Homo sapiens: one gene and its partners. The protein of the gene in region 4 interacts with the protein of the main gene of each other region in a biochemical or structural test. Each region holds a gene or a part of one and is shown on either strand. Other genes may lie near its edges.

Region 1 (3,807 bases), on a different chromosome or scaffold from region 4:
CCAGCTCCTCACAGACCATGGCCCGGGGGTTGGGGACTCCTGCCATAGAGTTCGTAAGTGGCAGGGCTGGGGTTCACACTCACACACCCTAGATTTTAATGCTTTCCCAAGACTAGCTACAGATCCTGTTTTGTTTTTTTTTTTTAACTACTTCTCCACTCACTAAAGCATGAATCTTAGGTCCATTCACTCAACAAGTATTATTTGATGCCTTCTACAAGCAAGGCTGTCTTTTTGGCACTGGGGATATAACCAAGGAAGAGCATGCAAAGTCCCTGCTCTCATGACCGACGTTACCCAGAACACCAGGTGAATGGCGGAATCCGGAAGATGGAATAGTGTCTGTGAACACTCTGGGCCAGGAGGAAACATGGCCGGTGGGAGGATCAGACAGAGGAATGGTGCAGTGCAGCTGGGGAAGAAGAGGAGGCTAAAGGGAAAGGCAAGGGCCAGGCCATGCAGGGTCTTGCAAACCACGTCAAGAGATTTAGTTCCATCCTAAACCCGATGGGCAACTGTCAAAGGATTGAAAGCTAGCGAGTGATGTGAGATTTTCATTTAATTCTAACTGGCTGTTCATCCCCAAAGTACCCCACACATACAGGCTGCCATTTTCTGTTTGTTACCAATCCCTTTCTGACACTGCTCTGGAGCCATGGCCGAAATTTCCAGCTGCAGCACCACAGGAGGAAGTATCTGACCTTGTGTCTGAGTCCTAACTGGCAGCTCAGTGCCCACCCTTTTGGGCTCTGTTTTCCTGAGCACAGGAGCTCCCCGGCAGGCCCATCTGTGTGTCTCTGTGCTGGTGCCTGGGCAATATCACCTGCACTTGGCCCCACACCGCTGTCCCCTGTGTGGGAAGGCACAAGCAGGAAACGTAAGTAGGCCTAGCATCTGTCAGTCCAGTCCAGAGTGGGTGGGGGGAGGGGGTAAAGCTTTGGCTGCTGGAAGCCATGGGCTGCTCAGCATGGAATCGGGAAGTGTCTGGTGGAAGGTAGGGGGAAGAGAAGGGATGGCACGAAGAACCTCCCTGCCTTCCTGGCCATCAATGGAGATAGCAAGTGAGAGGTCTGGTCCTCACCACCTCCGTCCCACTCATGGCTGGGTTAGGATGGACTAGTAGGCAGGCAAGGCCCACCTCTCACTGTCCCCCACACTTCTGTGCCCCTCACACCCACCCTGATATCCCTTCCCTTTGCAGACACTGAAGTCTAAGCACCTGGAGCCACGCCCCATCTCACCAGCAGTCAGGAAGGCTGAGCAGGGAAGGAGAAAAACAGCCAGCACAGGATTTTGCTCCTGGCCAACAAAAAGCAGGAAGGAAGGGGAGCGAATCTAGGCGTTATGCTAGGTACCTTATCTATGTTGTCAGTTCATTTAAAACTTGCAATCCTACAAGGCAGGCATTCTTATCCCCCTTTTTACCAGTGTAAAAGAGAGATTAAATAACTTGCCTAAGATCACACAGAAAGAGGCAGAGTTGGGATCTGAAAATATCTCGGTTTGTCTTTCAGAAACCACGGGGCTGGACTCAATGCTACCTCTGGAGCTGACTGCCCGCCTGTCTGGGCTTACCCTGGAAGAGGCCCAGTAAGGATGGTACAGAGGACTCCTGCCTCTAGTACAGCTCCAGCAATGGCTAGAGAACCCCTGGCCAGGAGTGGGCAGTAGCTGGGGCTGGGTCACAAGGCATAGCTCTCTGAGGCCTTCCAATCCCACTGGGAGCCACCAAGGTCTCTCAGAAATGCTGAGTAGTCTACTCAGCTTCACTTGCTGGAGGGAGACATAATGAGAGATGTATCTTTCTGGACAGAAGCAATGCCAAGAGTTGACAGTGAGTCTTCAATGTCCCTCCCTGCTTGGCCGACGTACACAGGAGGACAGTGCATCTGCAATGCGTTCTGTGCCCGGTGGCCCCCACTCCTTCAACTTGAGAGCCCCCAGCATCTACTCCCTCTCTGCCCTTAACCCCCACCCCACAGAGAGCCCAAATTAAGCCAGGTGTTCAAACAGCTACCTTAAATCAGTAGGGTTGAGTAGGCTTTGGAGGCCAGCCATGCCCTTTAAGAGCCAAGGCTTCTCCTTATGCATCCTCTGAGATCCCCGGCATGGAAGGAACCTGGGCAGAGGGAACATGAATGGCATTCCCAATAGGACATCTCAGCCTATACAGCCAGACCCACAGGTGCTCTGAGTGTCAATACACCCAGCAAGGCAGACTGCAGCACTCTGCCCCCTTGGCCTTTCCAAGGCCCCTCGATACTGCCCCACTATGCTGTCCCTACTTCTCAGGGTGGCCTGAACCCACTTCATGTCCATTCAGCCAACTCACTGAGCCACTACCAAGTACAGGCACTGTGCTAGGTGACCAGGGGCAGGCTAAGGCTGAGCAGAGAAACTGGGTCCCAGACTAGTGGGAGATGCTGAGTTAACAACCACCCAGAGGGTAAGGCAGGGCGACTCCAAGAGCTCCTGAGATTTTGAGTTAGGCTTTTAAAAGTTGAGTATCTGAGAAGCAAAGGACAAGAAGTTGGGACACATGTGCCAGGCTAAGGAGAGAGACACCACTGGCAAATGTCAGAGCAGATGGGGCCAAGGTCAGGCCCTGGGGATGGAGACAAGCTGGGAGGGTGATGGGAGTCAGATCAGAGGGCTGCATATGCCAGGCAGGACAGGTTGGACTTTATTCTACAGGCAATGCAGTGCCATGAAAGGACCGAGGGTTGCTATGATCCTAATGTCTGGGTCCCCCTCTGATTCCTTTTTTGAAATCCTAACCCCTAAGGTGATGGTATTAGGAAGTGGGGCCTGGGAGAGATAATTAGGTAATTAAAATGGAATGAGTGTCCTTGTAAAAGAGGGCCCAGAGAGCTAGCTAGCCCCTTCCACCACGTGAGGACACCGAGAAATCAGCAGTCTGCAACCAGGAGGAGGACCCTCACCAGAACCTGAACATGCTGGCACCCCAATCACAGACTTCCCAGCCTCCAGAGCTGTGAGAAATGCATGTCTGCTGTGTATAAGCCACCCAGTCCGTGGCAGTTTGTTATAGCAGCCTGACTTGACTAAGACGAGTGGTGCTAGCACGATCTGACCTGTGTTTGAAGCCAGTGACTCTGGGCACACATGGGGACCAACAGCAGCAGCAAGCGGTTAGAAGCAGCGAGAGGGCTGATGGGCCACTGGAGGAGGGTAGGGACCAGACCAGGGCAGAGGCTGCCAGGGCAAAGGGAGAGAGAAAATCCTAGAAAGGTGGGACAGCAAGGGAGGAGTGGCACGCAAAAAATCCCAGATGGCCAGTTCCACAACTGGCCAACAGGCTGGAAGTCATATGGTCACCAGCTGGAAAGGAAACACTATGATGTCCCTACAGTGGTCTCTCTCCCCTTCCTGGGACATTCCACAAGGTGCAGGGGTGCTCCTTGGTCACGTATCCACCAACCAAGGCTCCCAGGGGAAGAAAGGGGAGCCTCTGAGACTCAGCATCCACTTTCCCCATTTTTCTGCTTAGAAACTAACAGCTATGATGATAGAAAAGTATTTTTAAAAAAATGGAAAAGTGGGGGAGATGTGGATGAGACACAAGAAAAGCTATTGGTGCATGCGAGTTAAAAATCTAGAGACTAGATGTGAGTTATTAAACAATTTGCTGGCGTTTCAGCCTAGCTGATTGTTCGCATGTATGATGAGTCAGGGCAGATTCTATTACACTGGGAGATTAAGCAAATAAATGCTAGCTTTTGGAAACACATTAAAATGTGGGACTATGGAAATAAAATTATCTAGAAAATTGTATTAGCAATTCAT
Region 2 (3,807 bases), on a different chromosome or scaffold from region 4:
TTTTCATGACTATTCTCTCCTAAACTTGCTAAACTCCCAGGAAAAAGGGAAAATGGCCTGCTAGGGAGAACAGTTTCAATAATGAAAATCATTTCTCTGAAATATAACTAGCTTTTACAACGATTCTCAAATTTGTTATTGGATAGGCAGTTTGGCAAAAACCTAGAAGGGAATGCTTATTAGTTTATTAATTTATTTGTTAATGGCCCAGTTTTTATTGAAACTTTTGCATGTCTATTACTCTTTGGAAAATAATTAACAGCTCCATCCTATTGAAATGGCTTGTGTACAGAGCACACATCAACCAAATAAAATCCATGGCTTTGTAAAGGATAAAAAAAAAATTAAAATAATTTATTTCACCAAGTTCTCCTTGGCACTGAATTCTACTTAAAGCATAATTCATACAGTAGAGAATTTGAGTACACGGGGTATGGAGAGTAGGGCACAAAATGTTTCCATACATTTGACTTTATTGATTTGAAAGCAAAGTTACTGAAATGCCTCAGTTAGTTCTGCATTTTAAAAGGTGTCTACCTGAAAGAAACAAAAAGTGTGTGTGTGTATGTGTGGCGGGGAAGATGGAAGATTATTCACATGCTTGAAGGCTATTCACACTGCTTTAACAAATAAACATGGAACATACGTCCTTAATTAACTGTGGAGTTAATAGTCTGTCTCTTTGTCCTGATGTAATTTAGATCTTAATCTAACCCCAACCCTAAACTATATCAAACCCAGGCAGAAAAACTGAAGTTACAGGCAACTACCTGGGCTAATCTTAGGTTTTTTTCTCAAGAGTGAGAACCATATTCTCCTATTTCCATTGACCACAATTTGGTTCCACCACCTTTCTACATCCTCAATTCACTCCCAACAGTAGTTACGTTTTCACAGGGGAGGAAAACGCCAGTACAACAGGGTTCTTGCATCAAGCTTCATGCTTTCCCAGACATTTACTCAAGGGAACGTGGAGAGGAGGAGGAGGAGGGAGCTGGAGTGATAAGCAGATGTTACACATGTTTTTCCTGGAAAGATCACCCCACTTTTTCTAATTTCCCAGAATTAAAAGAATGTATTTTATCTGTATTACCATGGAAATTACTAGTAACACTGGATTTTTTTCCCTCTTTTCTAAGTTTCCAAAAACTTTCAGAAGTGTTCAAAGAAATTTTCTTGAACAATTTTAATATGTTTGATTTCTCATTTGGGGCTGGAATATTTGTATTCTTTTTAATTTTTTTACTTCATTTATTAGAAGAGTTTCTAATATGTGTAGGAATACAATTTTAAATGTAAGATTATATAGATGTAGATATAGATAGATAGATATATGTAGATATATAGATATAATGTCACAATATCACTATAAGGCATTCCTTCTTCCATTCTTTTTATATCTCCACAGAACTGCTCTCATGGGACCCTGTCCTGCCCTGTAGGTAAAAGCCCTTCTTATTTTCCGCTGAGAGGTCTACCCACTTTCATAGGGTGTCCAGTCAATTTGTGAGTACAGTCCACTGGAGTCTTCATAACATCAACCCTCTAGGTGAGATCTGTAATAGCTAGTTAATTATCTGGGAATTTTTAAACATTTGGATATTGCAAATAATGTGAATAAAATACTTGAATTTTAAATAATTAAATTGTTTCTTCAAATGTTTTAGCGTTTATGAAAAAATAATGCACCAAGATTTTGGATTTCTAACATTTCTGGCTGTATGAGAGAGTAAAGGGTTGGCACTTTATTAACTTGGGGGCAATGTAGACATATGTTGAAGCTGGTTCTGGAAGTGCACCCTGGAAATTTTTATCTGAGTTCCTTGTCAATCCTACACAATTGCATGCAATGAGAACTTCATGATTGTAGCATTGATCTGGCCTAGCTCTGGACTGCTTGATGAAGGAGTTTCTTTGAAGTGAGCAATACTGGCAAATATGAATGAATTCACACCACTAGCAATTGTTGGCAGAACACCCAACCACTCTACCCAGTTTCAGAATGTGAAATGGCATGTATTCAGCAGGGCATATTATTCTTGAAGTCACAAAAATAGGGAAAATCCAACAAGCGCAGTCAGTGTTTACCTGAAGAATACAGTCACATAGTTGCTTCACTTTCAATATTCTTAGGAAATAACCAAATAAATGAGCTACAAATATGAGAAACTGAGAGTGTGTGAATGAAAGAGAGCAACAGAAGGAGGAAATACAAGACTAGACAATGTAATCTTCTACTTAACATTTCAGAATTTTATTAATCCTTTAAAAATCACCCTATTTCTTTTGAGTTAATATCCTCATCTCGATTACCCTCATACATGGCTTAGTTTGATTCTGTTACTAAATTCTGTGAATCATTATTTAATCAAATCTACTAAAGATTAGAAAAAATTCTAGCAAGACTTATAATCATGAAATACAGAATTAAAAGTTTAAACCTACCAAAAGTCCTATGGCCTATTATTTAGCTGTGAATGAGACACGTCAGGAGTATAAATCTGCACTTTTGACTGTAAGTAAAATTTGCTAATGCAGGAAGCGAAATAGTGAAGGAATACTGGGGTTGCTAAAAGATTACTTTTTTTTTTTTTTTTTGCAAAATGCAGTGTACCTTAAAAGTGTCTCACCTAGAAGGCCTCTACCTGTAATCACATTAATTTTTCTAAAGACAATTTGGTGTTTTGAAGATAAATGTCATTAGTCTATGATAATAGCATCATAGGACAATTAGCCATTTTAGACTTGACCATATTTTCTCTTTTTAGCATATAGCCATCTTGATATTTAGGTGGGAGACTACTCCAATGGAGCAACAGTTTCATTTTACATGATTGGATTTAGAAATTTACAAATTTTAAACTCATAAGAATTCTAAATAATTTGAAAATGGAAACATTTGACCCACAGTCTAGCAGCATAAATACATTTATAAAATACTTCATTGTTGATCTTAGGTCATTGATTTAAAACAGAATTTGGTGACTATGGGCAGGTGGAGGGGGCCAGTGAGGAAGGTATAAAAGAGAAATCTTTATGAATTGTGTTCAGATTGATTTTGTATAAACATAATATATTCATGGTTGTATCTCTTATTTATAATACCCAACTAACATGAAGGTGGTCCAAGGGAAGGATCAATATTTTAAATAACATATTTGCTTAAAATATCATACAGTGGCTGCTTCATAAAAATCTTATAAACTTTTATTAACCAAGTTCAGAAATAATTAGAGGGGTGATCTCCCTGGATCAGAACTAAAACAAGTGAGATCAATTAAGCTCCTTTGAAATAGGTCTGTCCACACTTAATATTCTTTTTTAGACCAATTTAGCTGGAAATCTATTACTTAACCCACATTCATTGATATCATAGTCTTGTCTTATATTTCTTTGCCTTAGGCAGGATTTTTCTGTGATTCTGATTGTGTCTGACTACAAGCTGAAGATATCTTAATTAATAACAGGGCAGGAAGAATTGAGTGGGGAAAGAAGGCCTTCGGACAGTAGATAAGTATCCAAAGCAGTGTGGGCAAAAAGAGTAAGCAACATCCCCTGGGATTTTTCCCATGTGGGTATCACTGAGCAAAGCTGCTGTGGGAAGATATGTAGATTAATGGGAAATGCAGGGTTATTATGGAGGAAATAACTCACAGGATGATTTCATAGCCTGGCTAAATTACTACTTGATTAACTCCTGATAAAACTCAGAGCGCACAAAGCGAGGCAGAGAATCCTTTTCCATCAGGGCATGGATTCTTTTCTGGGCCATGTCAAAGCTGCTCAGGGAAGGTTCCACCAGGTTCT
Region 3 (3,807 bases), on a different chromosome or scaffold from region 4:
AAACTTAAAACCTCTGAAGGCAAGACTGAGTCTTCCATTCTTTTGAGACCAAGGAGATAGAAGTCCATCAGGCTTTCATTCTGGAATCCAAGAGAAAATTCCCAAGGAACAAGAAAGAACTGGGCATTAGCTAAATCTTATTAAAACTGCAGCCACCAGTCTGGGTAACATAGCGAGACCCCATCTCTACAAAACATTTGTAAAAAATGGTCAGGTGAATTGGCAAGTGCCTGTAATCCCAGCTACTCAGGAGGTTGAAGTGGGAGGACTGCTTGAGCCCAGGAATTCTAGGTTATAATGGTGCCAATGTACTCCATTCTAGGGGTGACAGAGGGAGATTCCATGTCAAAACAAAAAAACCCCCAAAACTGTTACCAGATCTGACCCATTCTAATACCTGCTGGCCTGAAGTGATCAGCCCTTCAGTCCTTCATCCTTAGACAGGAAATCCCTCCAAGGGAGATTCAATCCTTGCTGGTGGAAGAAATTACCAGAACCTACACAGTTTCTTTATATACAATGTCTACATATAATAAAAATTACTAGATATGTGAAGAGAGATAAAAATGTGATGAATAAAAAAATGGATACAGGCACACAGATGATCTCATTGGATTTAGTAGATAAGAATTAGATGGACTAAACTGATGAAAAGATGGGAAATTTCATCAGATAATTTAAATGTATTAAAATGAATCAAATTGGCATACTACATTTAGAAGAAAACAAGTTCTGAAATTAATAACTCACTAGATGATTTGACAGAAGACTCAGGCACAGAGGAAGACAGCTTAATTAACTAAAACACAGGTCAACAGAAAATATTCAAATTGAAGCAGAAAGATATGCGAAATGAACAAAACAGATCAGACAATAAGAGACATGAAGGAAAAAGGCCAACATATCTGTGATTTGGGTCCCAGAAGCAGGAGAGAAAGAAAGAAAACCAGACAAAGCCATATTTGAAGAGATATTGAGTGAAAATTTTCCAAAGTTGATGAAAGACGTCAATCCACAGATAAAAGAAGCTCAGTTAACCCAAAGGAGAATAAATAAAATGAAAACCACATATAGGCACATTATATTCACTGTGGTAAGTCAAAAATGAGAGAAAAACTTTATGAGGATAACAACAGGCTACCTTCAAAGAAGCATAACTTTCCAACAGAAACTAGGAAAGTCAAAAGATAATGGAATGAGAGTGTAAAGGCAGGCCAGACTGGAAGAAGAGATTTGCAGCACGTGCACACACACACACACACACACACACACACACACAGAATTTTGACAGATGGCTTGTATCCAGAATATATAAAGAACTGTGACAGATCAATAATAACAATAATAAAAGATCAGCGGCACAATAGAAAAATGGGCCAAACAGAAGTTCAAGACCAGCCTGGGCAACATGGTGAAACCCCATCTCTACCCCTTCCCAATATCCAAAATAAAAAAATTAGTTGAGTGTGGTGGTGGACACCTATAGTCTCAGCTTCACGGCTAATTGTGCCACTGCCTTCCAGCCTGGGCAACAGAGTGAGACCCTGTCTCAAAAAAAAAAAAAAAAAAAAAAAAAAAAAAAAAAAAAAAGAGAGAGAGAGAGAAAGAAAGAAAGAAAAAGAAAAATGGGCCAAAGGCTTGTAGAGGCATTTTAAATAGAAAATATACAAATGACTTGACCCAAAAACATATAAGAAGATGCTTAACATCATTAGTAGCCAGGGAAATACAAATTAAAACCATAATGAGATACCACTACACAGCCACCAGAATGACTAAAGTTAAATGGGCAAACAATACTAAGTACTGGTGAGGATGTGAAGCAATACACACTTTGCTGGTGGGGATGGATGTAAACTGATTTGGACTATGAAACAGTTTTGCAGTATCTACTAAAGCTAAACATACACTGGACTTATTACCCAACAATTTTTATCCTGGGCATATACCCAAAGGAAATAAGTTCATCAAAAGACATGAATGAGAATGTTCATATTAGCATTATTCATAATAGCTCCACACTGGAAACAACTAAAATTTCTTCAGTAGTGGAATGGAATACACTGTGGTGTATTCACACAAAGGAACGCTGCACAGCATTAAAAAATAACAACACGTACAACAACAAATGAATCTCAAAAACATAATGCTGAGCTAAAGAACCAGATGCAAATATTATACACTGTTTAATTACATATGAAGTTTAAAAGCAGGCACAATTGGTATATGGTGAAAAAAGTTATAAAAGTGGTTACCTGTGGGAGTGAGTCCTGAATGGAAGGAAGCGAGACGGAATCTTTGGGAGAGCACGGGGGGCTGAAAATATCCTATATCTTCATCTAGAGCCGTGGTGAGTGATTTTGGCCCCAGAGGACGCTTGGCAATGTCTAGAGACATTTTTGGTCATGGCATCCAGGGAGGGGCGCTACTGCATCATGCAGTGGGTGGAGATCAGGGATACTGCTAAACATCCTACAGGGCAATGGACAGCCCCCCTCAATAAGGAGTTGTTCAACCCCAAATTTCCACAGTGCTGAGGTGAGAAACCCTGATCTAAATGGTGGTTCTGTGGGGGTACACTTACATAAAGTTTACTAAGCTGTACTCTTAAGATGTGTAAACTTTACTGTAAGTTATAACTCAAGTAAATGAAGTTAAAAGCTGTCATAAACCTCACAAAAATACCAAATAGCTCCTCACTGAAACCTAACAAACACAGAAAAACTTTGTTTCAGTTTTAGAAATACTCTAATTCATTAAACAGTCCTAACAACTGAAATTTGCGGGGATTATAGTAGGTCAGGAAGAATTAAACTCTGTATGTAAAGTCCCCCTTAAATGCAAAGAAATATCTATACCTTTCTTTATGGCAGGAGATATATGAATTATATCTGGGTAGTCACTAGAAATAAGTATTTGTAAAAACACAATGAATGTATAATGGAAGACCCCATACATGTAAGATTCTTCTGGAGTCATCAAAAGATGAATAGAGAAAAATATACATATACCTTTTTTTTTTTTAAGTCAGGGTCTCACTCTGTTGCCCAGGCTGGAGGGCAGAGGCAAGATCATGGCCCACTGCAACCTCAGTGTCCCCAGGCTCAGGTGATTCTCCAGCCTCAGCCTCCCAAGTAGCTGGGACTACAGGTGTGCACCACCACACCCAGCTAATTTTTTGCATTTTTTAAAGAGACGGGGTTTCACTATGTTGCCCAGGCTGGTCTGGAACTCCTGGGCTCAAGTGATCCACCCGTCTTGGCCTCCTAAAGTGTGGGAATTACAGGCGTGAGCCACCACGCCTGGCCACATGTACTTTTTAACAGTAGTCTAATCTGAGTTCTCTGGATAATGACTTCCTGTCATTAATTATCAACATGACTTTTATACAAATTAAGAAATCTATGGGCGTGTGCTCTTGGGCTGCTCTCTGGCCAGCACCCTCTCCTGTGTCACCTCTCTTGTGTCCACAGTCTAACCCATCTCTTCATTTCCCTCAACCTCAGGTGGAGCCTCCACCAAAATGCAGATTTTTCCAAAAATCCTTACAGGGACGATCATCACCCTAGAGGTTGAACCCTTGGATACAACAGAAAAATGTAAAGGCCAATATCCAGGATAAGGAACGAATTCCTCCTGATCAGCAAAGACAAGTGACTGGAAGCTGGCAAGTAACTGGAAGATGGACATAACTTTCTCTGACTACAACATTCAAAAGGAATTTACTCTTTTTATGTTGTGTTGAGACTTCATGGTAGTGCTAAAACTAGGAAGAAATCTTACACGACTCCCAAGAATAAGCATAAG
Region 4 (3,500 bases):
TGTCCCGGGAGCTGCATGCGTAGCCCTTTTGGCTGTGAATGAGTGCGTGAGGCCAAGACCCCTAAGACCCACTTCCTCAGTCGCCCCCACTCCCTATGGCCTGGAATGGAGGTGATGTCTTTTCCACAGTGACCTGGAGGGGCCCTGACCGAGACTGGACTCTGAAGATGGGTGGCCTGGCCAGTCCCGAACAGTGTCCAGGCATTTGGTCCATAGTCCCCTGTTTGTTGCCATCCTCAGCTACCTGGACAGCCTGGATCGGATTGGGGCCGCCGACTACCAGCCCACCGAGCAGGACATCCTCCGAACCAGGGTCAAAACCACTGGCATCGTAGAAACCCACTTCACATTCAAGAACCTCCACTTCAGGTGAGGCCCAGAGAGGCCCCCAGGCCCTGGCGAGGGCTAAGATGGGACATGCCCAGCCTCTCAGCGCATTGCGTTTACAGCGCCCAAACATCATCCTGCCCCAGGGAACCTGCGGGCTGGGGCAGGCAGCTAGATACTAGAAGGAACCTGTCTGTGTTTCTGCCAAGGTTAGGGGCTGGAGTGAGCAGGGAGGCTTTCTGGAAGAAGATTCCCAGAGTGGGGCTGTGAGGAACAGGGAGGATTTGGACAAGGAGGGGCAGCCTGTCCCTGAGGTGACTTCCAAGGAGGAGGAGGAGGTGGGCTACCAGGGGGCCCTTCCAAGGTCACCTTGGGGGGAGGAGCCAAGAGTGGGGCTGGGTAAGCCCAAGCTACCTCTGTGAGACCCTGAGGACCCAAGTAATCCCAGAGCTGGAAGGAGCAGAGAGAGCTGACCCACCCTCTCCTAGTACGCTTGGGAAGCTGAGGCCTGACAAGAGCAGGGCTTTTCCCAGGCACAGAGCACAGCTAGAACCCAGGGGCTCTGGGGCCTCAGAGCAGGGGCCTGACGGGTGAGCTGGTTCCCAGGGTCCTGCTGCAGCGCTGTGTCCCCACCTGCAGTAACATGCGTGCACTGAGGCCTGCTCCGTCCTGTGGGGAAGAGAGGCCAGCAGAGAAGGGGAGGGCAGGGACCCCTGCTGGGAGAGCTGGATTCTAATATTCCCTGCCTCCCATGTCCCCAACTCCTGCCCGCTCCTGTTCAGACTGAGGGGCCGAGGCTCTGGGCCCAGGAACCCCTAGGCCTCCGCAGATCTGGGGAGCAAAACCTTGGGCAGAGCAGCCCTGAGGGGCCTCTCTTGCCTTCCCAGGCTCCTTGGTCTCTCCTGCTCCCCCACTGGGAGCACAGGATGGGGATCTCAGCTCAACCCAGCCCAGCAAGGCGGGGTCTGAGAATAAGCATTCTGGAGGGGCCACAGAGGCCATCTGCCAACGCCCCTGCATTTCAGATGGGGAGGTGGGATCCAGGGGAGGATCCCCTGATTGATGGAATGAGAACCAGACCCATTCCTTGCTCTGAGCCCACACTAATCTCTGCCTGCAGTCACTCCGTTGTGTCCGGTGGGACCAGAGATCCTTCCCTGTCCCCCTCTGGCAGGCTGTGTGTCAGCAGGCATCCCAGATCTAGGAGGCTACAGGACTCCTCGCTCTGGGGATTGGGGTGGGAGACTGACCTTTTACTTCCAGGACGTAAGTCCCACCTGCCCACAGTCTCTTCCAGAATTTTTGTGCCCCCTCGGGAGTAGAGTCTGAGAGGGGGAAGAGGCCAGGCTCTGATCTGCCAGAAAGGGGCCGTACTGGGCAGAGGTGAGAGCGCCAGCTTTGTCCACAGCCAGACCCAGCTCCACCACAGCTGGACTCTCGCCAGCTTGGGCATGTCCTAAGCCCATGGGTGGCTCACTTCTGCCATCCACATAACAGGTGACATCTCCTGCCTGCCTCCCTCCCAGGCTGGTTTGGAGTTTGCCCAGAGCAAACCCAGGAAGGAATAGACTGAGAGGAGGGTCCTCATGCGAGGAGGACTCTCAGAGGCACTTCCTGGGGGTGGCTCAGGTGCGCCCTCTTAGTAAAATGCTCCTCAGATGCAAGGGCAGGTCTTTGAGTCATGATCTGTGAGCACAGCCAGTCCCAGGACAGACTCCAGGGGTAGTGCCTGGGGATGGCAGTGATCCAGCTGTCTGTCATCACCTGGAGTGACAAGGTCTTCTAGTGAGGGCTTTTAGCAAGGCTCTGAGCACCATGGCCCCCATCCTCTGCCTCTCAGCGTGCTCACAGCTTAATCCCCAGGCAGCCCTCACCTGCCTGGACCCTGCGCCTACCAGCTCCCTGCCTCCTACAGGCTGTTTGACGTCGGAGGCCAGCGATCTGAACGCAAGAAGTGGATCCATTGCTTCGAGGACGTCACGGCCATCATTTTCTGTGTCGCGCTCAGCGGCTATGACCAGGTGCTCCACGAAGACGAAACCACGGTGAGTGGCCTGGGCCCCCCGGGCAGGGGGCAGCGCTGAGGAGACGGCCGCAGGATAGGCCAGCCCTCTGAGCACTGGGCCTCGGGTGCCCACAATGGCTCTGGGGTCCAGCCAGCTGTTGTGGTTAGAGGTTTCCATCATGGACAGGCCGTGCCGGCACTCCACCAATTCTGTATTGCCAAGGCAAATGCCTCATGATGCCAGTGTGGCAGAGCCTGTGTATGCAACCTGATCACACAGAGCCGTGCAGAATGTGCCTCTTCCATAAACTTGGTGGAGTCACAGAGGCCATCAGGCCATAGCAAATTTAAGCAAACCCTAAAAAAACCAGGAGGCAGCCAAGCAAGAATGTACAGGCAACAGAAATAGCAGTCTTAGCCTGACAGCCATCCCTGGGGCACTGGCGTCAGATGCTGCTGAAGCAGCATGGGGCCGGGGATGCTGAGGGAGAGGTGGGGAGGGCCCAGGATGCTGCAGGAGAGTTGCGTGGGGTTGGGGGTGCTGGGGAGCAGTGTGTGGGGCTGATGGGCCAGGAAGGGCAATGGGGATGAGGCATGCTGGTGAGTGACAGTCGTGGCTCTGGGCTCCTTTGCCAAATGCCAGACCAGGCTCCTACCTTCTGTCTTGCGTCACATTCAGCCTAGGGCCTCAGTGAGGGGACATTCCCCTGGGAGAGTGCAGCCTTCCTCTGGGTCTAGTCCTGGCTCTGCTACTCACTGGCTTGCTGCTGAATTTAGGCAGCACCCTTTCTGGCTCAGTTACTATTTTCCATAAAAGGGAGATAATAATAGTACCTGCCTGTGGGGGGCTGTTGGCAGTGGGGTGGGTGATGCGTGTGCAGCGCTCTGGAGCTGTTTCTGGGACAGCAGCGCCAAGCTGGTGGTTGTACAGTTGCTGGTGATTGCCCTGAGCCTGCAGGTCCACTGCGTGGTCCCCTTCTGGGCTGCAGCCCGCCAGGCACCGAGCATGGCCCACAGGGTCACTGGAGACAAGCCCCAACACTCCTGACAGCGGGGCCCATAGGCTATGGGGTCACAGCCTGGCGTCTGTCATCTCCTTCTGTCTGGAACACATGCAAATCCCCCACCCCACGCCTCTGAAGGCTGGCACCGAGGGTTTGAGGTTGGA

The links.
Region 1: the proteins of GNAO1 (region 4) and ZBTB16 form a complex in vitro, tested with the Homo sapiens proteins (one study listed by BioGRID).
Region 2: the proteins of GNAO1 (region 4) and RGS5 form a complex in vitro, tested with the Homo sapiens proteins (one study listed by BioGRID).
Region 3: the proteins of GNAO1 (region 4) and RGS20 form a complex in vitro, tested with the Homo sapiens proteins (one study listed by BioGRID).

What each region holds. Positions count from the first base shown.
Region 1 is NC_000011.10:114,237,572-114,241,378, reverse strand, and holds part of ZBTB16 (zinc finger and BTB domain-containing protein 16), read right to left. Parts: intron 1-3,807. UniProt on the Homo sapiens protein: Acts as a transcriptional repressor. Transcriptional repression may be mediated through recruitment of histone deacetylases to target promoters. May play a role in myeloid maturation and in the development and/or maintenance of other differentiated tissues.
Region 2 is NC_000001.11:163,143,660-163,147,466, forward strand, and holds part of RGS5 (regulator of G-protein signaling 5), read right to left. Parts: coding exon 3,683-3,807; 3' UTR 1-3,682.
Region 3 is NC_000008.11:53,887,196-53,891,002, reverse strand, and holds part of RGS20 (regulator of G-protein signaling 20), read right to left. Parts: intron 1-3,807. UniProt on the Homo sapiens protein: Inhibits signal transduction by increasing the GTPase activity of G protein alpha subunits thereby driving them into their inactive GDP-bound form.
Region 4 is NC_000016.10:56,334,489-56,337,988, forward strand, and holds part of GNAO1 (guanine nucleotide-binding protein G(o) subunit alpha), read left to right. Parts: intron 1-240; coding exon 241-369; intron 370-2,242; coding exon 2,243-2,372; intron 2,373-3,500. UniProt on the Homo sapiens protein: Guanine nucleotide-binding proteins (G proteins) function as transducers downstream of G protein-coupled receptors (GPCRs) in numerous signaling cascades.